Linked DNA regions of Homo sapiens. The protein of the gene in region 4 interacts with the protein of the main gene of each other region in a biochemical or structural test. Each region holds a gene or a part of one and is shown on either strand. Other genes may lie near its edges.

What was found.
Region 1: the proteins of ADGRA1 (region 4) and SIPA1L2 interact in a test that uses a peptide from one of them, tested with the Homo sapiens proteins (one large-scale study listed by IntAct).
Region 2: the proteins of ADGRA1 (region 4) and SYNJ2BP interact in a test that uses a peptide from one of them, tested with the Homo sapiens proteins (one large-scale study listed by IntAct).
Region 3: the proteins of ADGRA1 (region 4) and PALS2 interact in a test that uses a peptide from one of them, tested with the Homo sapiens proteins (one large-scale study listed by IntAct).
Region 5: the proteins of ADGRA1 (region 4) and PDZD2 interact in a test that uses a peptide from one of them, tested with the Homo sapiens proteins (one large-scale study listed by IntAct).
Region 6: the proteins of ADGRA1 (region 4) and RADIL interact in a test that uses a peptide from one of them, tested with the Homo sapiens proteins (one large-scale study listed by IntAct).
Region 7: the proteins of ADGRA1 (region 4) and GRID2IP interact in a test that uses a peptide from one of them, tested with the Homo sapiens proteins (one large-scale study listed by IntAct).

The regions. Positions count from the first base shown.
Region 1 is NC_000001.11:232,459,134-232,462,633, reverse strand, and holds part of SIPA1L2 (signal-induced proliferation-associated 1-like protein 2), read left to right. Parts: intron 1-1,472; coding exon 1,473-1,747; intron 1,748-3,500.
Region 2 is NC_000014.9:70,407,091-70,410,590, forward strand, and holds part of SYNJ2BP (synaptojanin-2-binding protein), read right to left. Parts: intron 1-3,500. UniProt on the Homo sapiens protein: Regulates endocytosis of activin type 2 receptor kinases through the Ral/RALBP1-dependent pathway and may be involved in suppression of activin-induced signal transduction.
Region 3 is NC_000007.14:24,691,573-24,694,693, forward strand, and holds the end of PALS2 (protein PALS2), read left to right. Parts: 3' UTR 1-2,621; downstream 2,622-3,121.
Region 4 is NC_000010.11:133,086,646-133,090,723, forward strand, and holds the start of ADGRA1 (adhesion G protein-coupled receptor A1), read left to right. Parts: upstream 1-1,278; 5' UTR 1,279-1,493; intron 1,494-2,062; 5' UTR 2,063-2,264; coding exon 2,265-2,267; intron 2,268-4,078.
Region 5 is NC_000005.10:32,086,631-32,090,130, reverse strand, and holds part of PDZD2 (PDZ domain-containing protein 2), read right to left. Parts: intron 3,001-3,500; coding exon 1-3,000.
Region 6 is NC_000007.14:4,877,217-4,880,716, forward strand, and holds part of RADIL (ras-associating and dilute domain-containing protein), read right to left. Parts: intron 988-3,500; 5' UTR 924-987; coding exon 389-923; intron 1-388. UniProt on the Homo sapiens protein: Downstream effector of Rap required for cell adhesion and migration of neural crest precursors during development.
Region 7 is NC_000007.14:6,544,962-6,548,461, reverse strand, and holds part of GRID2IP (delphilin), read left to right. Parts: intron 1-3,500.

The DNA.
Region 1 (3,500 bases), on a different chromosome or scaffold from region 4:
TCAAGTTTTAGTTACTTCAGTTCATGACTTTAGAAACGTCAATATTCTAAAACATCATCACTAACTAAAACCAGCAGTCCCCTTTCCGCATTTTGCTGAGTCGTGAACTGTCATGCCTGTCTGGGAAAAGCTGATTGGCATTGTGTGCACTTGTGGTAACCATGGAAACATCAGACACAGTGGTGATACATGAACCAGCCCCAGTCCCACAGCTGTACTTACTGTCATAGGTCTTATTAAATAGGTATCTATGTAGTCAGAGCATGTTTCATAGAAATGGAGTGTTCATTAAACTGAAACTTCATACATTGCCTCTGGGCTTTTGGGGATAGGAGTATGATACCTCCCAACTTGAAATTCCCACAGATAGGTGAGGTCATAGTCATCGGGTGATACTTAATGAGCCCATGTTTTTCTTTCATTGGATGTAAACTATGCTCGGTGAGTGCTTTTGAGGGCTGCATTAGTGGTGCTTTAATGTACCAAGTGGGATGCAATCCACCATTCTTCTTTCATGTTCCTTTTTGTGGAACTGCTGTTGACTCTCTCTCACTCTTGAGTAAGGTACATACACTGAGGCTTCCATTGCTTGGGGCTGCCCTCAGCCCCTAGGAGACAGGCCTAGTGGAGGAGAGGCAGCCCATAAGCACAGAGGGTCTGTCTGCTGCCTGCCAGAGCACCATCCTACACACTTGCCTTGTGAACAGATGGCCAAGGAGTCTGGCTGGCCTGCCCCCACCATGGATCTGAGTGGTCCTCACCACTCAGGCAAGCATAGGCAGTTGTCTGTCCTCAAGAGAAGGACCCTAGGGGACAGAACACTCCACAGTATGTCCCTAGGGCTGGTGCGTAGAGAACATTTAGAGTTTTCCTAAAGCTCTGACTTTCTGCCACTGCCCTTCCTGAACCTCAGAGTGGGCTCTTAAGCGTTAGCTTTCAAGTGCTTTGGGGTGTTTTTCTTTGCTTGGGATGAATAAATTGTCTCATGGTTTTTAGTGCTTGCTGGTTGAAACTTGTAATGGTCCACAAAGTCTTTACAGGTTTTCCATTGCAAAAATCCATCTAGAACGATGGGATTTATATGCTTAAAAGTCAAGTCAATTTACCTAATAAAGGAAAAACGGGAATTATCTGAGCCCATCTGAAGCTCTCAAGCTCTGGGTCAGTGACATCTAAGAAAGCAGGACACCTGTATCAAGAACAGATATGACTTAGAATGAAGAATGAAACCATTGCTTTGCTTCTGTTATTTTCTTTGCACTTGATGCAAATGTTAATTGTGATCAGCTCTGAACTTAAATGTGTCCTTGTCCTGTCACTTGGACAGTTTGAGGAAAAGGCAGAGAGAGACAGGCTGGGCTGCGAGGGCCCAAGGGAGAGGGCTGGCATGGAGGCCCATACGTGCACCTTTGGCAGAGCCCCATGGCAGCTTGGGCAGGAAGGGCATCTCTAACAGTCTCCTTCCCCCTTAGATAGTGACGAGAGGCTGCGAGACTGTGGAAATGACCCTGAGGAGGAACGGGCTGGGCCAGCTTGGCTTCCATGTGAATTTTGAAGGAATTGTCGCAGATGTGGAACCTTTTGGCTTTGCCTGGAAGGCTGGCCTTCGCCAAGGGAGCCGCCTCGTGGAGATCTGCAAAGTAGCCGTGGCCACTCTGACCCACGAGCAGATGATCGACCTGCTCCGTACTTCTGTGACTGTGAAGGTGGTCATCATCCAGCCCCATGATGACGGCTCGCCCCGAAGGTAAGGCGTGGGAGGCCCAAGTAATGCTCACTCCTCCTTTGCCTCTGTAGCAGGTGGCTGTCCTCAGTGCTCCTGCAAGGTCCTCAGAAAATGCAGTCAAGTGTGTCTTTGTACAGTGTTCTGGGATGTCACTCATTTGTACAATGTTGTTGGGATGTCACTCGTTCGAGGAATTGAAAAGGAGCTTTAAAATATGTAATAGATGATAAAAAATAATTTGCTAAGCATTTTAATGGAACATTGACTACATTAAAGCTGAGCTATTCTGAACTAAGGGGAAGAGCACCTGCCTGGTTCCCCTGGACCTCTTATATCTAAGAGGAAATAATTCTGTATCACAGCTCAGCCTTGAGCACATTAAATACTTAACTATTCAGTTAGAATTTCTTCCCATAACATGAAGCCATTGATTATTTAAAAAATATTTAACAGACCAATAGTTGTAGGTATGAAAGAATGTTGGAACAGCACAGGTACTCTCTGTGGTAAATACTCCATTCTCAATTGAAGCTTGAGAGATGTTGAACTGGTTCAGGGCGTTATCATAAACTGTCAGGAGAAATAGATGAAAAGGAACGGCTAGACTTGGAAGGTTCAGAGGCGGATAGGTGGAGGGCTGGGATAAGAACGGGGTTAGAAAGCAATACTATTACATTACTAATAGAAAATAATCATGCCCAACATAAAATATTAGGCCAAAAGGAGAAAGAATGCTAATTAAGAAGGAGCCGTTTATTGAGGCTGTGGCCCACTACTTGTGTTAATGCATGACTGGTGGTAGTATCTAGAGCACCTTCCCTCTATCTTCATTCCCAAATGGAGTTCGTACAGGCAGCCTTAAGAGCTCTGGCTTTTGAGAGACAAAGTATGCTTGGAATCCAGGAATTTGCTGTGTGGCCTGGGGCAACTCACACACTCTCTCTAAGTCTCACTTACTCTCTGTAAGATGGGATTATTATATCGCCTACCTCCTATGATTTCAATGAAGATGAAATAAAGTAACACATGTAAAGCACTTAGAACCTTCTAGCATAATTGCCCCACACATTTAATTTAGAAAAATAAAACTTTAGGGGCTGGGCGCTATGGCTCACACCTGTAATCCCAGCACTTTGGGAGGTCGAGGTGGGCAGATCGCTTGAGCCCAGGAGTTTGAGAGCAGCCTGGACAACATGGCAAAACCCCATCTCTTCAAAAAATACAAAAATTAGCCAGGTGCAGTAGTGTGCACCTGTAGTCCCAGCTACTCAGAAGGGGAAGGTAGGAGGATCCCTTGAGCCTGGGAGGTCGAGGCTGCACTGAGCTGAGATCGTGCCTCTGTACGCCAGCATGGGTGGCAGAGTGAGACTGCATCTCAAATAATAATAATAAATAAAACTTTAGCATATTCATTTTAATTTCTTTCATATGAAAAAATAAATTCTGATTATCCAAAGATAGTAGGATTGTTGGGTCTACTTTCTGGACTTACTAACCTAGGTCATACTCTCTCCTTTCTCTGTTTCCTTTCTTCCTCCTTTAAGCCAGCACTCTCCATTAGCACTTTCTACAGTGATCTGTGTCTGTACCGTTCAGAGCAGTAGCCACAAACCACATGTGGCTATTACGTACATGAACTGTAGTGCAACTTAGGAAACGAATTTTTCCTTTTAATTAATTTACATTTAATTGGCCACGTGTTGCTAGTGGCTGCCATATTGGATAGATCAGCTAAACCATGATCTCCTTTTAGGAAAAAAAGCCACTTACACTG
Region 2 (3,500 bases), on a different chromosome or scaffold from region 4:
TTATTAGGTTGGTGCAAAAGTAATTGCAGTTTTTGCTATAAAAAATGGCAAAAACCGGCCAGGTGCGGTGGCTCACACCTGTACTCCTAGCACTTTGGGAGGCCGAGGCAGGTGGATCATGAAGTCAGAAGATCACAACCATCCTGACTAACATGGTGAAACCATGTCTCTACTAAAAATACAAAAAATTAGCCAGGCATAGTGGCAGGCGCCTGTAGTCCCAGCTACTTGGGAGGCTGAGGCAGGAGAATGGCGTGATCTCCTGGGAGGCGGAGCTTGCAGTGAGCCGAGATTGTGCCACTGCACTCCAGCCTGGGCAACAGAGCGAGACTCCGTCTCAAAAAAAAAAAAAAAAATGGCAAAAACCACAATTACTTCTGCACCAACTTAGTCAATAATAAAAGGCTAAAGTTTCTCAAAGCACCAATTTTGTGTTAATTAAGCAAAAAAAAAATTTGTTATAGTATCCTCCTTACAGTAGACTTTTTCTACTATTTCCTATGCAAATATGATAAAATGATTTTTAAATAAATTCTAAGTATATCCCCAAGATAAAATCAAAGTAAAAAAAAAAACATAGAAGATGAAGTTTAAACTCAAAATCACCATAATCTACCTTTCTAGCCATCTTTGGACATTCTCTACTTTGCATTATACAGTAAACAAAATTTAATATTTGCTATCGCTTTTCACCCTATCATCCCCGCCCACAGCTACTGCTTATCTCCGTGACTTTGGATGTCTTCTTCCCTTTGCCTGAAAACATGAAATTACTTGTTTAATTGTCTCATTACCCTATTGCAATATTCGTTCCTAGAAGACAATGTAATTAGCTTATATTCATTTTTGTACCTCCTGTGCCAATATAGTACCTAGTACATACACAAAGCCCAACTGGTGTCAATTGACTATTATTGGAATTGAAAATTACACCTAGGTCAGGAATTTCTAACATTTCCAGTTCTAGGGAAATCTCACAAGGTTAAAAATGTTTCTGGGAGCTTCTAACAGGTTTTTTTTTTTTTTGGAGGAGGGGGAAGGACTATTGCAGTAATAGGGTTTTTTTATAAACTAAGGCATAAAAGGAGGGAAAAAGAGAAACAGAAGCCCCATATCCCTGAAATTACTGACACAGCTTACCCTACCCTTCCTAGATGACTCAATTCTTGCCCCATAAAGTCTACTCCCCACATAGCAGTATCCTTAAAGCACTTCAATGAATTAAATGAGTTGTTTTGTGGTAAAGTGCTTAAGACAGTACAGAATCGTCACTACAAATTATTTATAAAACAAAAATCGGACAGGCGTGGTGGCTTATACCTGTAATCCCAACACTTTGGGAGGCCGAGATGGGTGGATCACCTGAGATCAGGAGTTAGAAACCAGCCTGGCCAACATGGTGAAACCCCATCTCTACTAAAAATACAGAAAAATTAGCCAGGTGTGGTAGCGGGCGCCTGTAATCCCAGCTACTTGGGAGGCTGAGGCGGGAGAATCGCTTGAACCCGGGAGGCAGAGGTTGCAGTGTGCTGAGACTGCGCCACTGCACTCCAGCCTGGGCAACAAGAACAAAACTCCGTCTCAAAAAAAAAAAAAATCATTGAATCCTCACAACTCTATAAGTAGATTCTAATAATACTCTCATATTATAGCTGAGGAAACTGGGGCAGATAGAAGTGAGGTGACTTGCACAAGGTCACACAGTGAGTGAGTGATAGAGTAAGGATTTGAACTCAAGCATTCTGGCACTTTTTCTTTTTTGAGACTGAGTCTCGCTGTATCGCCCAGGCTGGAATGCAGTGGTACGATCTCAGGTCACTGCAACCTTCACCTCCTAGGTTCAAGCAATTCTCCTGCCTCAGCCTCCCAAGTAGCTAGGACTACAACAACCTCGAACTCCTGGGCTCAAGCAATTCTTCCACTTCAGCCTCCCAAGTAGCTAGGACTACAAGCATGCACCACCAAACACAGCTAATGTTTTGTTTTGTTTTGCTTTGTTTTGTTGGCAGAGATGGGAGTCTTGCTATGTTGCCCAGGCTGGTCTTGAACTTCTGGCCTCAAGCAGTCCTCCTCCTTGATCTCCCAAAGTGCTCGGATTACAGGCAAGAGCCACAATGCCTGGCTTGAACTGCAAAATTCTTAAAAATGGGGATCATTTCTTATTCTTTATTCTAGTGTCCATGATTCCTAATCATAGTGTAGGCACATAATAAATGCTAAATAAATTTTAAAAAATAGTTTTACTTTACTTTTCAGTCTTCTGAAACCAGCAGTTCTGACCCTATCATCTAAGTATAGTTTGGCTATTTTTCCCTCAATAAATAATTGTGTACTTATCACATGTAATCATTGACCACTTTTCTGGCTAGTCACATGGCTTCGCAAAATGTTTCTGCAGTTGAACATCTATCAGCTTGCCTTTCTATTTCCCCAAAGTAATTCCTAGATATTTTACTGTACAGTTTTTCTTTAGTATTGTTTTGAAAAGATCTTAATACTGATCCTTGAAGCAATCTTTAGAGAACTGTTCCATTTACCTGACTCTCTCCAAGAGGTGTTCCATCTACTCCTTCTCCTTGTTTCTGATATCTTAGCCAGTTTCCTATCCATCATAATACAATGTGTCCATCCTCATTCTCTCTTTCTCAAATTGTATTTAGTGAAGAACCATGTTTACCACTTTTTGAAAGCTGAAACAGATCATGTTACTGCTTCTCTTTATTTAAAACATCCCATTATGGCAGGCACAGTGGCTCATGCCTGGAATCGCAGCACTGTGGGAGGCTGAGGTGGAGGATCACTTGAGCCCAGGAGTCCAAGGCATGACTGGGCAACATAGTGAGATCTCGTCTCTACAAATAATTAAAAAAAAAAAAAATTAGTCAAGTGTGGTGGTGCATGTCTGTAGTCCCAGCTACTCAGGAAGCTGAGGCAGGAGGACCACCTGAGCCCAAGAGGTCGAGGCTGCAGTGAACTGTCATAGTGCCACTGTACTCCAGACTGGGGGACAGAGCAAGACCCTGTCTCAAAAATAAATAAGTACATTGGGTGTGGTGGCTCACGCCTGTAATCCCAGCACTTTAGGAGGCCGAGGTGGGTGAATAACTTGAGCTCAGGAGTTGGAGACCAGCCTGGGCAACATGGTGAAACCCCGTCTCTATGAAAAATATGGCTAATAAAAACATTAATCAGGTGTGGTGACACACACCTGTAGTCCCAGCTACTTGAGGGGCTGAGACAAGAGGATCACTTGTACTCAGGAGGTCAAGGCTGCAGTGAGCCAAGATCGTGCCACTGCACTCCAGCCTCGGTGACAAAGTAAGACCCTATGTCATAAATAAATAAATATAAAAACATTCCATTATATTATTATGATATCTATCAGTTTGCTCAGTCATTTAATGAACACTTACTGACCACTGTGTGTCATGCACTAGACAAAGCATTAAAAAAACATTAAAGACACATGCATGCATGTGTTCACTGCAGCACTATCCATA
Region 3 (3,121 bases), on a different chromosome or scaffold from region 4:
CTTTTTTTAGATTGTTTTAAAACGCTCTGGTTCCACCTTGAAGCTGATAATCTTTCTGAAAAATATATGAGAAACTCAGAAAGTAGTCATTATTATAATAAATTTAATTTTCTTAGGGAAAAAGGGCAGGGTTCTGGATGGAAACCCCTTTGGAAATTCTTATTTAAACTTTTGAATGAATCTTTAATATGATTCAGGCTGAGATTATGATACCTGCCCTTGTCTTATTTCAAGAGGTTTGCTGTGAGAATTCATGTAATAACATCTGTAATGTATTTGGAATTTTTGGGAGAAATTCATTCTTTTAAATAATGGGATTATTGTATATAGTACAAATGAATACTCACAAAATTTAAGAATACATTTGACTAATAATTGAGCATCTTGTCAGTTTTTATGCAAGCATATATTGTATACCTGAGGAAGATGACAGTTCTATAATTTTTTTAAGGTAAGGTTATTTTTAAATTGCATTTTTGTTCTAACGTTTTGCAATTTATATTCTTTTTAAAATATTTCCCATAATTCATCATGCTAGCTTCTGTGTTCTTGGAATAGTTTTTGAAAAATGCAGAGATTCGAACATGAGTCCTTAATATACTAAACAGTGAAAGAATGATGATATCTCATTTCTAAAGTAAGCATGGTTCACACCACTTTGGCAATACACTGCAGTACTTTTTAAAAAATATTCTCTAGTGATAAAAGTAAAGACAGGGTACTGGCCAAGATCCTAATTCTGACTTCTGACTGTGTGATCTTCGATGAAATTTATATTTCCCTTTATCATTACTATTCTACTTGTTAAGTAAGGCTAAGTTAATATTTGTCTTCGCCTTAAATTCTGATTTGTAATTTGTAACTCTGATGTGGTAGCTGTGATATGGTGAACTGAAAAATCCTTATTAGGCTACTTTATCTGTTCTCTTTTAGTTATTTTAAAGTGTACCTGTTTCTGAAGTAATGTAGTGAATGGTGAATACTTTTCAGGAATTCTTCCAGTTTTAAAATAGCCCCAAAGATACAGTTTCAGCTGGTGGAAGGTCTGTTCTGCTCTCTTAGTCCTAATCAGAAAGTCCCTTTTATCTTATAATCCCATACTAAATCCAAACCCTTAGCAAATCCTTGCTGCCAACCAGACCACTCACAAATCAAACAAAATGTAAGCAAGCAATCCAGTACTCGGTTACACCAGAAGACTCTGATCTTTGCCCCCGAAAACTGTCCTACTTTATCCTTATACCTGAAATCACTGCATACCTGAAATCACTGCAGCCCTACTGTTTTACCCATACCATTAATTTAAAAAGGCATCTATTTCTTTATAGAAAGAAACATTCACAGTGAGGTCTTAGTTTGTGAACCTCAAAATCCAGATATTAATCCACTTTAGTTATTACTTTGTAATTGCTTCTCAGTCATTGGCTGATAATGCAATGGTGTGATAAATTTGACTTATCTCCACATACAAAAGTCGATCAGAAGGGATAGTTCTCTTCCTTTTTTTCCCCTCCTACTGGCTCTTACTGTTTTCTAATCTCCAGTGTAAATGGAATGAACACATCTATAGTTAAGGTAAATGCCACCAATCAGAAGATTGAGTGATTTACTGCTTGTAAAGCAACTGTCTTTGAATCTTATGAAATAGGTGGTGTTGCTACCACAGAAGCCAAAAAGGTCTTAAAATTGGAAATAGATGTCTTTATTGTACTTCAGCCAACAGCAAGCCAGGGGAAGGAACATACATAAATATGACAGGTCATATATGAAATTTGGCTCTCCTCCTATCAAAGTAGCCTAGGAGCTTGGAGGAAGCCTAATTAACTAAAACAGGAAAAAAGCATACTCATCTGATGTAAAAACTCATCAGCTGTAAATTACCAACATTAAACCAGAAGTCATTACCAGTTAAAATGTGTGGTTTTCATCTTATTCTTAAATAGGAGAGGTGGACAGTAGTGTAAGTAACATTGCTTTAAAGACATAAAGCTTGTCCTGGTAAACATGGTCTAAATGAGAAATGCCTCCATCTTTTCAGGTAGAACCAGATTTCAGGCATAGCTCAGCTACATCTGTATTTGAAATACAATAAAAATATTTCTTATGTCTCTGTATTCTCTTTTAAAAAGAACTGCTGACTGGCTCCTGTCTCTTCAGTAACACTGATTTTTTTTTAAAGAAGTGATATGTTGGACTCTGTTGTAGAAGAATGAGCACTAGTATTCAGCAACAAGTGCAATTTCTCCATGTTATGTTGAGCTCTGTTGGAGCCTATGGTGAGTATTTGATGTGAAAACCTTGCTGTGGGAATTTTTTATTCTTCCTTTTCCCCCCACGCCAGTTCGTTTTGGTAAGTCTTTTATTTGAACACAAGACGCATGCTTTTTTAAACCTCTAGTTTTTGAAGTAACTGTAGAAGAGAATCTTTAAAAAAAAAAATGGAGGGCAGAATGCTTGTTAGCAATCTGAAAATCAAAGCTGAACAAGCTGCTTAAAGTTTCTGATTAAGAAGTTTAAAAAGAAAAATTAATTGCTACTGCTTTCCAGGTAATTGTATTATTAGTTTCTGTATAAAAGAAACATTATTGCTGTTGTATAAATAAAATTTTCCTGTGGTACAATTAAGTATTGATTTTTCAGAAACTGTCCCTATAAATCTTTTCACATATTTCCATGTGCTGTCCAAAACAAAAATTATTGAAATGTCTAATCTGTGAGATTATATACTCCTGGTAAAATATTTTTGTATATATAAAGAAATATTTACTATTGGAAAAAAGTGTTTCATTTATAGGTAGAACTAAGGTTTAGAGATAATAATGGAGGATATCTGATTAGCGTTGATAATTTTTTTTAACTGTTTGCATTTTTTAACTTTTAGGTTTGGGGGCACATGTGAAGGTTTTGTTACATAGGTAAACACGTGTCACAGGGGTTTATTGTACATATTATTTCATCATCCAGATACTGAACCTGGTACCCAATAGTTATCTCTTCTGCTCCTCCCCCTCCTCCCACCCCCCACTCCAGTAGACCCCAGTGTCTGTTGTTTCCTTCTTTGTGTTTATAAGATACTATCATTTAGCTCCCACTTAGAAGTGAGAACATGCAGTATTTGGTT
Region 4 (4,078 bases):
ACCAGGGGGGGCTCCGAGGCTCCAAGGGAACGGTGTCCAGGGAGTCAGGGCGGCCAGGTCCTGGGGTGCCTAGAGCGTCTCCAGCTGGGAACTAGACCGTCGCCTGCCTGGACCCTGTGTCCCTCAGCTGGAGTTCAGGGACCAGCACAGTGTCCCCACAGAGGGGCTCTGGGAACACCAGCTAGATGGGGCAGTGGGGCCCTGAGCACATCCCGCTCAAAAGCCCCATAATGAGAGGCCGGGGAAGCGGAACGCTGTCACCCCTGCATCTAATTCTGCCTCTGTGAGTCTTCATGACAACCTCCCAATAGTACATCCTTCAGGCCCCTCAAAATCCATGGCAGCAGGGCCTGGGGACCCCCTGAACAGGCGCCAGTGTCACAGAACCTGGGGCAGAAGTAGCCATGCAAGGGTGGAGGCCAAGGAGGGAACAGGTGGAGGGGTGTGGGGTCACCCAGGGCCAAAGGGGGAACAGGTGGAGGGGTGTGGGGTCACCCAGGGCCAAAGGGGGAACAGGTGGAGGGGTGTGGAGTCCCCCAGGGCAGTTCCTGAGACTCTTGCTGAGGCTGCCACCAGGCCAGCACGTGCCCCAGAAAACGGAGTTTGTGACGAAAACTGGAGTGGACTTGGACCCACCTTGTCGGGTAGGAGGCCCCTTGGGGCAGGATAGGGACCTGTGGGATGTGTGCAGAGCCCAAACCTCGCTGCGGGTGGGAGGCTGGGCTGCGCCGCCCCTGGCACCCTGGCCTCCACACTCGCCTTGGCTCTGGATGCCCAGCTCTGTGGCCCAGGATGCAGGAGGGTTGGGGTAGGGGGACAGGGACGCTTTCTGCACAGCCACAGGCCCTGTCTGTCTACACCGGCTGCGGCTGCCCTGCTGACTCACACTCAGACGGGTTCACGACAGGTGCACCTCGGTTCTGGCATATCTGGACTTGAGAATGTTAAATAAAGGATGGAAAATTCCTTCCAAATCCATTTTCTTGTGTATATTTCTGTTCCTGCAGCTTCTCCACGGATGGAGATTGTCTTTGGGAATAACACAGGGTCGTGCAGTCCGCCCGGCGGCGTTTTCGGGCGAGGGTCTGGTGCTGGGGAGCGAGCGCGGAGCGAGGTGTCTCTTTAAATACGCTCTGCAGTGTGACGGCGGCCGCCCGGCTGGAAGAGCCATCCCCACCCTGCGGCAGGAGCCCGCCCGCCGCCATCGCCCGCCCCGGTCCCCATGGTTACGCGCCTGCCTCCGGCCCCGGGTCCCCGCTGTCGCCGCGGGAGGTGCGCGCAGAGGCGGCGGCGCTGCTGGCCGGGCTGGGCCGCTCGTGCGCGGGGCTGTGACTCACCGGCCGGCGCCGCAGCCCCGCAATCTGTTGATAACTCGGTCCCAGCTCGGCCGCTGCCCTCGCGAATGGAGAGCGGGTCCCCGGCGGGGGGAGCGCAGCGCGTCTGTCTCCGGGAGCGCGGCCCGGCCGCCCCGGCAGCCGCTTCGGCCACAGCAGGTGGGAAGGACGCGCGGGTCTGGGCGGCGGGAGGGACGCGCGGGGCCGCGGCTCGGCAGAAAAGCTCGCGCCCCGAGGTGACACTGGCCGCGAGGAAAGCAGCTCCGAGTAACTTTCGGCTCCGCTGGGGCGGGAGGCGCCACGGATAATCCAGGGCCCCCGCCCCGCGCGCCCGGCCCGGAGCTCGAGCCACATCCAGGCAGAGCAGGCGCCGCGGCCGGGCTGGGGCGGGCGGGTCACTCGGTGCCGGTTCCCGGTGCAAACCCCCCGGCGCGCCTCTGGCTTTGTGCAGCCCGAGATGGTTGAGTTTGGCTCCGGAGCCGGGAGTGGGGCGCAGATTGATTTTTAAATATGGAGAAGGAGACGCATCTGCCGCTGGCGCGTTCGGTCCGAGCCCCCCACCGGTCCCCACCGGCACCGCCTCCGCCAGCCCCAGGCGCAGCCCCCAGGCCGCCCGCGGAGGGGAGGGAGCGACAGGGGCCGCGGCTGCTCCCTGGCGGGGTCGGGGCTGCGAGCTGCCCTCCGCGGGGACCCTCCGCCCGCCCCGCTGACCGCCGCTGTCTTCACAGATGGGAGCAGCTCCCGGACTGCGCCCGCCCCGCCGCGGTCACCCTGAGGCCAGGGGCCCGGGAGCGCGACCTCCTGGCCGCCGTCTGGGACTTTGACCTTCCAGAGGCCATGGAGGCTGGCGGGGAGCAGGGCGCCACCTGATCGCCTCCCCCTGGACGCCTCCTCCAGCGGCGCTCACGCTTCCGCAACTTTGCAGCGCTCATGGTGAGTACGGGGGTCCCGGGGGTCCTGCAGCTGGGGGCTAGGCCGCTGCGGGGGGGCGGCCACCCGTATGGGGACTCCCAGGCTGGAAAAGTTGTGGAATGGCGAGCTGGTGACCGGGCTTCCGGGCTCAGTGCCGGGGTGGGAGGCTCTGTGGAGTGGGGGCCGGGGACAGGCCGCGTGTCTGGGCACCTCTGCTCCCCGCGTGCTGGGTGCTGATCATACTAATGAGTTGCAGGCATATGGCAATGTGGAATCATTTAATCAATGGAGGCGACGTCCCTCCCGCAAAGCTGGCATCCGTGCCCTGTGAAAACCTGGTCTGTGCCTGGGCTGGGGTCCCTGCCACCCCAAGCCCCTCCACCCTGGTCACCGGCCTCCTCCACGCCACCCTGCCGGCCCCTTCCCATTAGAAAGTTGATGAAAGGCAGTGCGGACAGACGTAGGTGGGCTTCAGCAGTGGAGGCTGTGGCGGAGAGAAGGCGGCCGCGCACACGGCAGGCACGGGAAGGGTGTTTCAGCGGGAAGGGGCTCGTGGCTGGCAGCTGGCTGGATCGGCTAGCCGAGCCCATCGTGGGTCCCTCCCTGAGGCACCAGCAAGCTTTTGCTGCAGTTGCTGAATGTCTGGGTTCCGGAAGGGCTGACAGCTGAGTGAACAATGCATTGTGTGTGCTGGTAAGGGACAGCTGACAGGCGGTGAGGACCCAGGGCACGTGCAGAGAATGCCAATGGCCTCTAGAATGTGCGGCCGCCACAGACGCCGGCTGGCGTGCTTCGGAGCAGACCCAGTGTTCGCTGCATAAGGAGCCATCGGTCTGAGTCACTTGCTCATTTTCTTCTTGTTCCGTTCGAAATGTCCAAGCAAGAGAGATGCCTTTGCCAACATTCAGTATCGTCTTCCAGTGGCTGCTTCACCTCTGAGGCTGGCTGAGGTCTCCGCACTTACCTTTCAGACACCTGACAAGGTTGCGTCTCCAGCACCAGCAGCACCTCAGGGGGCAGCAGGCCAGCCCCAGGGCTCCTGCCTGCCCCCAGGCTCCCACCAGCCTCAGGAACCATCGCTGTTGCCCCGCAGGTACCACACCCAGCGCAGCCCCAGGCCTCCCAGTTGGCAGGATCTGTGGCTTTTCAGCCTCAAATTGAGACCCTTATTTGCAAAATGGAAAACTGTCATTGACAGAGGACAGTGAACGGAGAAGGGCTTCTGAAGGTGGGGGTGCTGCCGCAGCCCGGGGGTCCCTCTCATCCCCTTCCTCGCCTCCTCCTCTCTAACCCTTGGCCCTTCTGCGAACAACTGTGCGGGGGCCTCCCCAATCCAAGAAGGGCACCACCCCTCGCAGGCTGAGCCTGTTCGTGCACTCTCCTCTCAGCTCCTGGCTCCTGGTGGAGCTTCCTGCTACCACCTCCTCGGCCCGGGGCCACCCGGTCCCAGCCGGCCTGGCAGCCCAGAGCTCCTGCTCACCCAAGACTGTGAAAGCCTGCTGAGCTCGATCTGCCTGGAGAGTGTGGCATTTCAGCAGCTCACTGTTTTTATTCACAACAAGTAACATTTGCACCTGAGAAAATCTCTGAAAGTGTGAGGAGTTGCCCTCCCGTGCTGCATCAGTCTGGTGCAGCATTTTTCTGCATGTGTCTCCAAGTTCACAGCGTAGTGTGACAGCGTAATTCACAGCACGTGTCTCCAAGTTCACAGCGTAGATACCTGGGCAGGCTCACCCCATGGCCATGGGGTCTTGAGAAGGAAGCCTGGAGGCCGTGGCCAGGGCAGGGTGGCCCTGACTCTGCCTGCCCCACTGCTGTGCTCTGGGGGGCTC
Region 5 (3,500 bases), on a different chromosome or scaffold from region 4:
GGGCTGGCATGGAGTAGGTCCTGGTCGCTGGCCTTGGGGTGAAGTAGAGATGGTCCTCCCCCGAGGGGCCCCCTGGAATGCTGTTTCTGGGCACCCCTCGGGAGTCTGACATCAGGCTTGATTTTCCCTGGGAGTATTCTGCCTTTCTAATGGCTGTTTGAAGGGAGGAGGAGGAGGACGCCAGTTTTGCCATGCTGAATGATCGTGACATTTCCTGCTCTGCCTGGGAGGCATGAGATGGGAGTGAGGATGGATGACTTGTGGATGATTCTGCGACCTGGCGATAGAGCCTGATTTCACTCTTCTCCTGACAGTTGCCCTGGGCCAAGCACCCTCCCCGTCTGTCGCTTTCAGCTGGCTTGTTACCACATACAGTCTCTGACACTGCTTCAGCAGAAATCTCCACGATTTTCAGCTGGTTTGTTCTTTCGAGGCGATCGCTGGCCATTATGTTGCCTCCTTTTTCGCCAGTCGGCCTGGGTTGGGCTGTGTCTGCTGCCACATGGCTGGCCAGGCGCGGCTCACTCTGTCTGTTCCCTGCCACGGACATGCCGTTCCTAGACGCTGCCGGACTCACCGGCCCGGAGTCAGCACGGGGCGCCCTGCCCTCTGCTCTACACTTAGGAGATTTAGGGGTGGTTGGGCAACCTCTGTCGGGTTCAGAGAGGACAGCCATGTGGAACCTGCTCCACATGCCTTGCTCAGGAACAGGCTTGGGAGAGGTCAGGGGCGAGACAAATGTCCTGATGCTCGTGTCAGACACTGAGGGTTTCAGTGGCCCAGAGGTGGCAAGAGGTGGCTTGCTTTCCAGCACACACTGGGGGGACCTGGGGGCAGCTGTGGTGTTTCTGTCAGGGTCCTCGTGGTCGGCTACATGGAGCCGCTGTGACACTGCCTTAGAAAGTGTTTTGTGGGAGGTCTGGGGTGAGATCAAGGGTTTCCTGTGGTCCGTCCCCCCAGCCTTCACAGCATTCGCAGCAGGGGCCTCAGAGTTGACTTTGGCCTTGCCCTTGAGGCTGAGCCTCTTCAGCTTCGGACCACACTTTGCCTTCTGACCATTAGTCAGAAGCATTTCTGCCGGACTCTTCTTAGACAGGTCCTTATTTTCCAGGTTTGTTTTCGGCTGAGGAGGGCTATGAGGCACAGTAACGCCCTTTTTTTGGCTTGAACTCACCATCTGAATCTTGGAGTCGGGACTTCTGGCAGGCATTAGAGGTTGTTCCTTCTCGGTTTTGCTCCTCAAATGTGTGCCTTGGTTATGTTTATTTATTTCTTTAAACCAGGCCATGATGGGCCTCCTAGCGATCATTTTTGGTTTCTGTAGCAAGTCATCCAGGTCTTGACTTTCAGAGATGTGGAGGTTTTCCAAAACAGATTCTCCATTCTTAGGGACATCCACACTGAAGGAGGACAGACTGGCAGCTGCATTAATGCTTGTTTCGTATTGATTCAGGGTTTCGTCATCTAGCAGGTCATGTTCCAAGCCATTTACCATGTTGGGGGAGCTGAGAATGATGGGCGGACTGTGAAAATGCCTGGCTACTTTAGACAGCGGACTGTTTTCCATGGCTGAGCTAGCGCTGGTGACTTCTGTGGTTTCTTCTGCACACGAGGGCCTGTGGTTCTGTGAAGTGCTTATGTCCGCATGAGTTTCATGCTCCTGAGAGCTCATCTCCAAGAGTGATGATGGCTGGGAAGAGTCTGGGCCTGAAGTGTATGAGCCTGGCAAGCAGGCGGCCTTCTCACGGGGACTGGCCACCGACTCTCTCGGAGTGCTGTATTTTAATGACAGAACTTTGGCTGAGGCAGGACAGATGGCAGCCTGGGTGGGAAGATGAGCAGGACTCGAGGGTGGATTGGGGCAGCCACGTGTGGAACAAATCTCAATCTGTTCCTCTTCTGACTCCGAAGGATCTTCCTTGTGCAAAGACACACGGGAACGAGGAGGGGACCAGCCGTCCCTGGCAGAAGCTCGTGGGGCTTCAGTGAGTGACTCAGGGTCAGAAGAAGAATCCTCAGCATCGCCATACATGGATGACAGAGACGGCTCCGTGCTGTCACCCAGGCCTGATAGGGAGGTGCTGTCTTCATGAAAACTGCTAAAATTTCTAGAGTAGTTGCTCAGAAAGTTTTTGTTCACAGTAAAATGTTTGTCGGGATTAATTGAATCTAAAACCGAAGGCTGGGAGGCCCATTGTGGGTAGGCGGGGGCACCAGCAGCCCAGGCCCTCCTCGGGGAGGAGGTCTGGCCCCCCGGGACTGGTTCGGCACGGCAGGAGCTCCCACCTCCAGCCCCGGCTGGTGGGTGGCCCTGAGCACTGCCCTCCTGAGAGCCACTGTCCCCCGTCTGGGAAGACGGAGACCTTGCTGCAGAAGCATCCAGCTCCTTGATGAAGCTGTCAATGTCCGTCACAGGGCTCTCTCTACTCCCCCCTGGGCAGCAGTGCCCCGAGACATGGCCACATGCTTCTTTGGTGTTGTCAGTGGATGGCAGCATGGAGAGGCTGGCCTGCGGTGCCCTTGAGGACACAGAATCTGCTCCCTCCAGCAGGGAAGGCTCCTGGGAGCTTTCAGGTGCATGGATTCCTGTCATTTCCAGAGCCTTACTGTGGTTACCTGGAGCTCCCTGTCTCTGCTCCTGGGATGTGAGGGGGTCTCCTGGCAGGACAGCACCAGCTGGTGTCATTCCCTCTGCTCCAGGTCCCGCTCCCCTGAGGGCAGCCACCCTCCTGGTATTGTGGGGTGTGCTGGTTTCCGATGCTGATCGAGTCTTGCTGTAGTCAGGGGGAGCCGCTGCTTTCTCCCCCGGGGAGGGGCTGCCCTCATGGGGGAGCCTGACTGGAGACCTGGCCTTGCACTTGGTGACCCTGGGCGATGCAGGCTGGCTGGGATTCTCTGGCCGACTGACTTGCCCTGTGTCTACAGAGGTCTTGCTGGGGTCAGGATGAGCGGCCCCCTTCTTCCCTGGGGAAGAGATGAGGTCTGAGGAGCTGTCCAGTTCTACGTGGGGAACGTAAACAGAAGGTACATACACAGGAGAGGTTGTAGGGGAGATAAAAGGGATAATATAAGAAAGCAGCCCCTCAATTATTAAAAACTAGAAAATTATAAACAACCTCAAATATTTTTTTCTTTTTCAGAAAGCTGGGCGTGGTGGCGCATGCTTGTAATCCCAGCACTTTGGGAGGCGGAGGCGGGTGGATCACCTGAGGTCAGGAGTTCGAGACCAGCCTGGCCAACATGGTGAAACCCCATCTCTACTAAAAAAAAAAAAAAAAAAAAAAAAATTAGCTGGGCATGGGGGTGGGCACCTGTAATCCCAGCTACTTGGGAGGCTGAGGCAGGAGAATTGCTTGAACCTGGGAGGTGGAGGTTGCAGTGAGCCGAGAATGTGCCATTGCACTGCAGCCTGGGCAAAAAGAGCGAAACTCCGTCTCAGAAAACAACAACAACAACAACAACAACAAAACGGCGTTCTGTGGCCTAAATGGAGGCCCTTC
Region 6 (3,500 bases), on a different chromosome or scaffold from region 4:
AGGATCGCTTGAGGGCAGGAGGTCAAGACTATCCTGGGTATCACAGCGAGACTCCTGTCTCTACAAAAAGTAAAAAATTAGCTGGGTGTGGTGGTGCACCTATAGTCCTAGCTACTCAGGAGGCTGAGGTGGGAGGATCGCTTGAGCCCAGGAGGCTGCAGTGAGCTGTGGTTGCACCACTGCACTCCAGCCTGGGTGACAGAGCAAGACCCTGTCTCAGAGAACAAAAGAGGAAGGCTTCAAACATCCAGGACACGGGCTCCGACTGCCTCCTGCAGAGCGAGCCCGCCCCACGCATGTCCCCTGCACCACTCCTTCTCCGCCTACCTCGGCTGGCCTTCTCAGCGCTCAGACCCACGGCTCTTCCTGAACCTGTGGCCCCCCTCACCTGCCGTGATGGTGTCCACCTCCTTGGCTGCCAGCTCCTCCACGTCCGACCTCTTCCTCAGCTCAAACCTCCGGGATAAACCTTCTCGGGGTTTCCATAATTCCTGGATCAAGAGGGGCTTCTCACTGTCCCCAAACACCCGAAAGCACCGGGCCTGCCACCGCTGCCCAGCATCGCCGGCTTGGCCCACCACGTCACACAGCACGTACTGGCCGGCCTGCCTGGGGTCCAGGGCGTACCGCTCCAGCGCCTCCTTCACCAGCTCACGGGCGCTGGAGGTGCCGGTGGCCAGGACGCTCTTGTAGTGGGTTCCTGTGCAGACACTGTCCCCAAACACCTTCAGGACACCAGGGGCCGACAGCTGGGTGGAGAGCTCGGCGGGGTCATCGCTGGCGCCCAGGCTGGAGAAGGTGGAGTCCAGGTCCCGGTACTTGTAGCTCAGCGTCCGGGACAGCATGCTGGACAACAGCTGGCTCTGCCGCTTCAGTTTGCTCTTGGTGGGCGGGGACATGATGAAGTGCGTCCCATAAAACATGGTGGGTGAGGCTTCATGGATGAGGACTGTGGGCTTCAGCCAAAGGATGTGGGGAGGCCGTGACCTGGGTGAAAAAGTGAGAGAGGTTAGCGCCAACCATCGTGACCACCAAGAGCAAATGAGGCCACAGGCGGTGACTCCTGCCCGTCATCCCAGCGCTTTAGAAGGCCAAGGTGGGAGGACGGCTTGAGCCCGGGAGTTCCAGACCAGCCTGGGAAACATAGTAAGGCCCCGGCTCTACAAAAAATTTAAAAATTAGCCAGGCATGGTGGTGTGCACTGTACCCACTGCTCTGAAGGCTGAGGCTGGAGGATGGCTTGAGCCCAGGAGTTCAAGATTGCAGTGAGCTATGATAGTGCCACGGCCCTCCAGCCCGGGCAGCAGAGCAAGACCCCATCTCAAAATCTAATGGACATAACAGGCCGTGGGCATCCTGGCCCCGCAGACCTGACACCAGAGCACCTGAGCAGAGGATGTGGCTGGAGCCTGCAGGGCCACCAGAGACCGAGAGGACTAAACGGGCTGGAGCGCCCTTCAAGGAAAGCCATTACTGGGAAACACAATGAGGTCGCCTAAGTAAGACACGCTCCGCTGCAGGGCTTGGATTTCTGGAAAGTGCTGGGCGCAGCGCCCGTGTGCAGTGAGCATCAAGGAGCGCCCCACCCGGAGCCGGCCCCAGCACCATCACAGCCACAGAAGAGCAGCGGGCAGCCCAAGGGCAAAGCTTCGCCTCTCCGTAAACCTCGTGTCTCCTACCCCACAGGCTGCGACGTGGGAAATGGGTCACAAACACAGTGCAACCAGGAAAACAGGCGAATCGCAGCCACGTTGGCAGAATAGACCATCAGACATTCCAGACACAAACCCCCAGAATCTACCCCTCAGGGCAAGAGACCCGTCCTGGCTTGAAGGAGATACTCCCTGGGATGGCAGCACTGAGTGGCCTCGCAAGCACGGCGGGCACAAAGGGCCCCTCTCGAGCCGGTGCAGGCATGGCCGGAATGCAGGCGTCCCGCCCACCACAGGCCGCGGGTGCCCGGCGCTCCAGGCCACAGAGATGCAGTCTCCTGGGGAAACGGGAAAACAGCCTGGGACGCGTTGGCGTGTCATACAATCACACTTCTAATGTCCGTAGCGTGCCCAGGGCCAGGAGTTCCAGATGGTTTCTCAGTCTCCCTCCAGAACCTCTGTGGGGGCAGGAGGGCAGAGAAAAAGGAAGGCAGGTCTCCGATTTGGAAAAGGTGAGGCTGGACTGCAAGGCAGGAAAATACTGGAAAACTGCGCACACATCTCCCCATTACTGTACCCCACTTCCGTGCTCATGTTCTCACCAAAGACAAAGGTGGCAGACGAGTGAGCCAGGAGGAAAGCCTATTTTCTGGAAAGCTCTGGAAAGAGTGGTCCAGGTCCCAGTGAACACAGCACGGGTCGCCTGCCACTGCGACCGGGGTCAGTACTAAACACCGCAGCAGCCAACTGTCACTGTCCAGGCTTGACTCACTCGTCACGCTGCGGGCGCTGCAAAAGGCTTCTGGAAAGGACGGTGGCTGCCTAGGGCCACAGAAAGCAACCAGGGAACCCCTCCAAAGAAAAGGAGCCACACTGTCCCTTAGGAAACTAAACAGTGGAACCGCCCCAGCCTCCAAAGCTGACACTGCGAACTGGCCTCTTTCTAATATCACCGGGGCGTGGGTCATCTTCTCTGGAGCCTCTCACTGCCCGCCAGAGCTGTCATGGGTGAGTCCTGAAATCAGACCACCACTCGCTTCCTCCAGAACCAGCCCAGGTCAGCCAGCAGCTGTGCTTTCTCCGAGGACCTTGAACTCTTCAGAAATACTTCCGACAGCTTCGCACACCAGAGACTGGGTTCCCAACGCGGACGTCTGCCCTGCGGGGTGGGTGGCTGGCCCTTCTCCTGTTCCTATAGCCCACTGCGGACACTTCACCACGGCAAAGGCTTTCGCTGTGCCTGGCTTTCTGAAGAGGTGAATTTGCTGTAACAGGTCACGGAGTTCCCAGTACAGGTCATAAGCAGATGGAGCCTTGAGGTTCCATCGAGCCAGGCCATAAAGGAGTAAAGGAGCAAAGCCTTTGTTTCTCTTCCTCTGAGGAAGGTGCAACGAGTGGCCTTGTCAAATCCTAAGAAGCTCAGAGCCGGCCGCAGCTTCCCCCACGGACTCATCAAAGGCCTCGGTTTCATTTACAACAAAAGCATTTTCAGACAGTGCTCACATCACAAACGTGCGGCCTGGCCTGTGCACACCACACCAGCGGCTTCCAATCGCCCTCTAGTCTGACCTCAGTCTCCTGTGGTCAGTTTTCAAAGTGAGTACTTGGAATCACAGAACAAAACCCCTCAAAGAGCCTCTCCAGCCGGCACTTATTAACCATCCATGAGAGCTGCACAACCCTGCTCCAAAGCACCTCTCCAGATGCCCCAGGCTTAGAAGCCTCCAGGCAGCACACACTGGCAGAGGGTCGGCCACCACCTTTTCATAGTGCTCATTTCCAACGGGTTCCCCAGGGTGCAAAGGCAAAGTGCAGGTGGTGGATGGTACAGCCTCTGCCACCAGGCAG
Region 7 (3,500 bases), on a different chromosome or scaffold from region 4:
CAATGTGAAATAAGCATGTCATGGAGAATGGGGTACCCATCCCCTCAAGCATTTATCTTTTGAGTTATAAACAATCCATCTACACCGTTTAAGTTTGTATTTATTTTTTTTGGAGCCAGAGTCTCGCTCTGTTGCCCAGGGAATACAGTGGTACGATCTCGGCTCACTGCAACCTCCGCCTCCCGGGTTTAAGCAATTCTCCTGGCTCAGCCTCCCAAGGAGCTGGGATTACAGGCCCCCACCACCATGCCTGGCTAATTTTTGTATTTATAGTAGAGACACGGTTTCACTATGTTGTCCAGGCTGGTCTTGAACTCCTGACCTCAGGAGATCTGCCTACCTCGGCCTTCCAAAAGTGCTGGAATTACAGGTGTGAGCTACTGCACCTGGCCTAAGTTATTTTAAAATGGACAATTAAGTTATTATTGGCTATAGTCACCCTGTTGTGTTATCAAGCTCACAGACTTTTCCTCCGTGGAAGGGAATCTGCTCAGTTCTGCCCCAGCAGCACTTGGCCATGGGGTTTGGGAGGTCAGGGAGCCTGGAAACTTTGTCGGAGTTTGACTATTGCAGAAATGCCTCCCAGCCCACTGCCCAGGCATCAGGTCCCCACCCACTCTGGCCTCCTTCAGTGCCCAAGCTTGGTCCAGTCCTAACCCCTTCCAAATTAACCCCCTCAGGAGTGTCTCCTCCATCATGTACCCTAGCCTGATCCCCTGAATGGGCTTTTCTGACCCTGAGTAGACCAGCCTCTGTGGCCAGATACACACACTCGCATACACACAGGACTCAACTCCAGCTTCCCTACATCACCAAAGTCCAGATCTTCCAAAGCTGTGACTTTCTTCCTGTACCCACAACAGGCTCTGCTGCTATAACAAACAAACCCAACATTTTTTATTGTTGTTGTTTTTGAGACAGGGTCTAGCTCTGTTGCCCAGATTGGAGTGCAGTGGTACAATCATAGCTCACTACAGCCTCCAACTCCTGGGCTCAAGTGATCCTCCTGCCTCAGCCTCTCTAGTAGCTGGGACCACAGGTGTGCACCACCACACCTGGCTGATTAAGAAAAAAAAAAAAGACTGGGGAGATGAGGTCTTGCTATGTTGCCCAGGCTAGTCTCAAACTCCTGGCCTCAAGCAATTCTCCTGCCTCAGCCTCCCAAAGTGCTGGGATTATAGGTGTGAGCCACTGTGCCTGACCCAAAATCAACAACTTAGTGCGTTTGCACTACAGAAGTTTACTTTTCACCCACAGAGTCCTCTAGGGGGTCAGTAGACTTTCTAGGGTGGCTTGATGTCCATACGAGGTCTCAGCATTTCAGACTCCTCCATCTCTATGTGAAGCTTCAGGGTTCCCTATGGAAGAGGAAGAGAGCTTGGAAAATTGTGCATCTCCTCTTAGAACAGCACCTGTCCTCAATGCTCATTGGGCAGAACTAGGTACACTGCTCCTCCCTAAGGATGCTGGGAAATGTAGTCTAATGTGTGTCCAGGAAAGAGGGAAGACCTAGAAATATTGGTGAGTGCGAGTAATGCCTGCTACAATCCCAGATCACCTGCCATGGAGCCAAAGGTCTATCCCAGACTCCATCTAATCCCTGCAGAGTTGGAAGGGGGCACGTTCAGAGCTCCAAACAGGGCAGGATGCAAGAGAAGACCTGCCCAGGAGCAGGGCTGGGCAGCAACCCGCTGAGGGTAGAATCCGACAGGCTGCCCAGGCCAGCTGCAGTGTGTTTTCTGGCAAGGAGGAACGGGGAAGTGGAGGATTTTGGTTAGGGCTCGCTGGGCACCCACAAAAGCTGAGAGTGAATCTCCAAAAATGACTTCCTCTGGAAGATGAAGGGCCTCCGTGGAGCCCAGTTGGTTTTCTATCTTTTTTTTTTTTTTTTTGAGACAGAGTTTCGCTCTTGTTGCCCAGGCTGGAGTGCAATGGCGTGATCTTGGCTCACTGCAACCTCCGCCTCCTGGGTTCAAGCAATTCTCCTGCCTCAGCCTCCCAAGAAGCTGGGATTACAGGCATGTACCACCACGCCCGGCTAATTTTGTATTTTTTTTAGTAGAGACAGGCCAGGCTTGGTGGCTTGGCTGGGCACGGTGGCTCACACCTGTAATCCCAGCACTTTGGGAGGCCGAGGCAGGCAGGTCACCTGAGGTCAGGAGTTCAAGTAGAGATGGGGTTTCACCATGTTGGTCAAGCTAGTCGCAAACTCCTGACCTCAGGTGATCCACCTGCCTCTGCCTTCCAAAGTGCTGGGATTACAGGCATGAGCCACTGCGCCAGACTGGTTGGTTTTCAATCACCAGCCCTCCAGTTCTCGCCTGCGCTTTCTGCCTGCCCCAGTTTTTCCTCCTTGAAGTGGCTGATATTTAATAGAAAATCCATTAGTGTCCCGTGATGATACCTCATGCTTAGATGTAGGCTGAGAACATCTGGGTAATAACTGACACCGAAACCGCACTGTAGCACGGGCCCCAGGAGGGAGGAACTATTTTTTCCTCTTTCTTACATAAAACATCTCTGCAGCCAGCCATGTTCTCCTTTGAATTGAGGTTGCTGCTGACTTTGATTTCCAAACTGGCAACCTTCCCCAGCACGGCGCGTGCGTGGGGAGGGGGCGGCTGGTGCTGCCAGCCTGGCCCACTCACAGGGAGGGAAACAGTGGTGAGCTGGGGCCTGCAGGAAGTGCAATGCAAGGCTGCTTTTTGATTCAGTCCCATCCACATTCTCTGAGTGCCTAATATGTGCCAGGCGCTGTGCTTGGGGCTGGACAAGCATGAGACCCCGGATCATCACACCTGGGTGGGGGAGACAGACGGTTACACAGACTCATGGTGCATCTGTGCTAGGATTCAGACGTGTACAGAACGTGGCCTCTGACTGGAAACCCTCGAAGCTTCCCGCTACTTCTCCTCCCCTTTTGGAATCATCTAGAAAGCGGGTGGATATACAGTTCCAGAGTTCAAGAGCGAGCTCTCGGCTGAAGATCGAGGTCTGAGAGTCACTGTCTGGGGTTCTTCGCCAGAGCTGGGTCGTGGAGAGCCTCAAGTGCAATAGTGAACTGCAGTGGCAAAGGGCAGTGGTACAGAAACAGCACGTGTAGACGGCTCCAGACTACAGAAGGGAGGAGAATGAGCAGCTTTCAGGATCAAAGGAGGATTGTCTTTTATTTATTTATTTATGGAGACAGGGTCTTGATCTGTCACCCAGGCTGGAGCTCAGTGGTGTGATCATGGCTTACTGCAGCCTTGATTTCCCGGGCACAAGAGATCCTCCTACCTCGGCCTCCCAAGTATCTGGTAGCTGGGAATACAAGCGTGCACCACCATATCTGGCTAACTTTTTACTTTTTCTTTTCTTTCTTTTTTTTCTTTTGAGATGGAGTCTGTCTCTGTCACCCAGGCTGGAGTGCAGTGGCGCGATCTCGGCTTACTGCAAGCTCCGCCTCCCGGGTTCACACCATTCTCCTGCCTCAGCCTCCCGAGTAGCTGGGACTACAG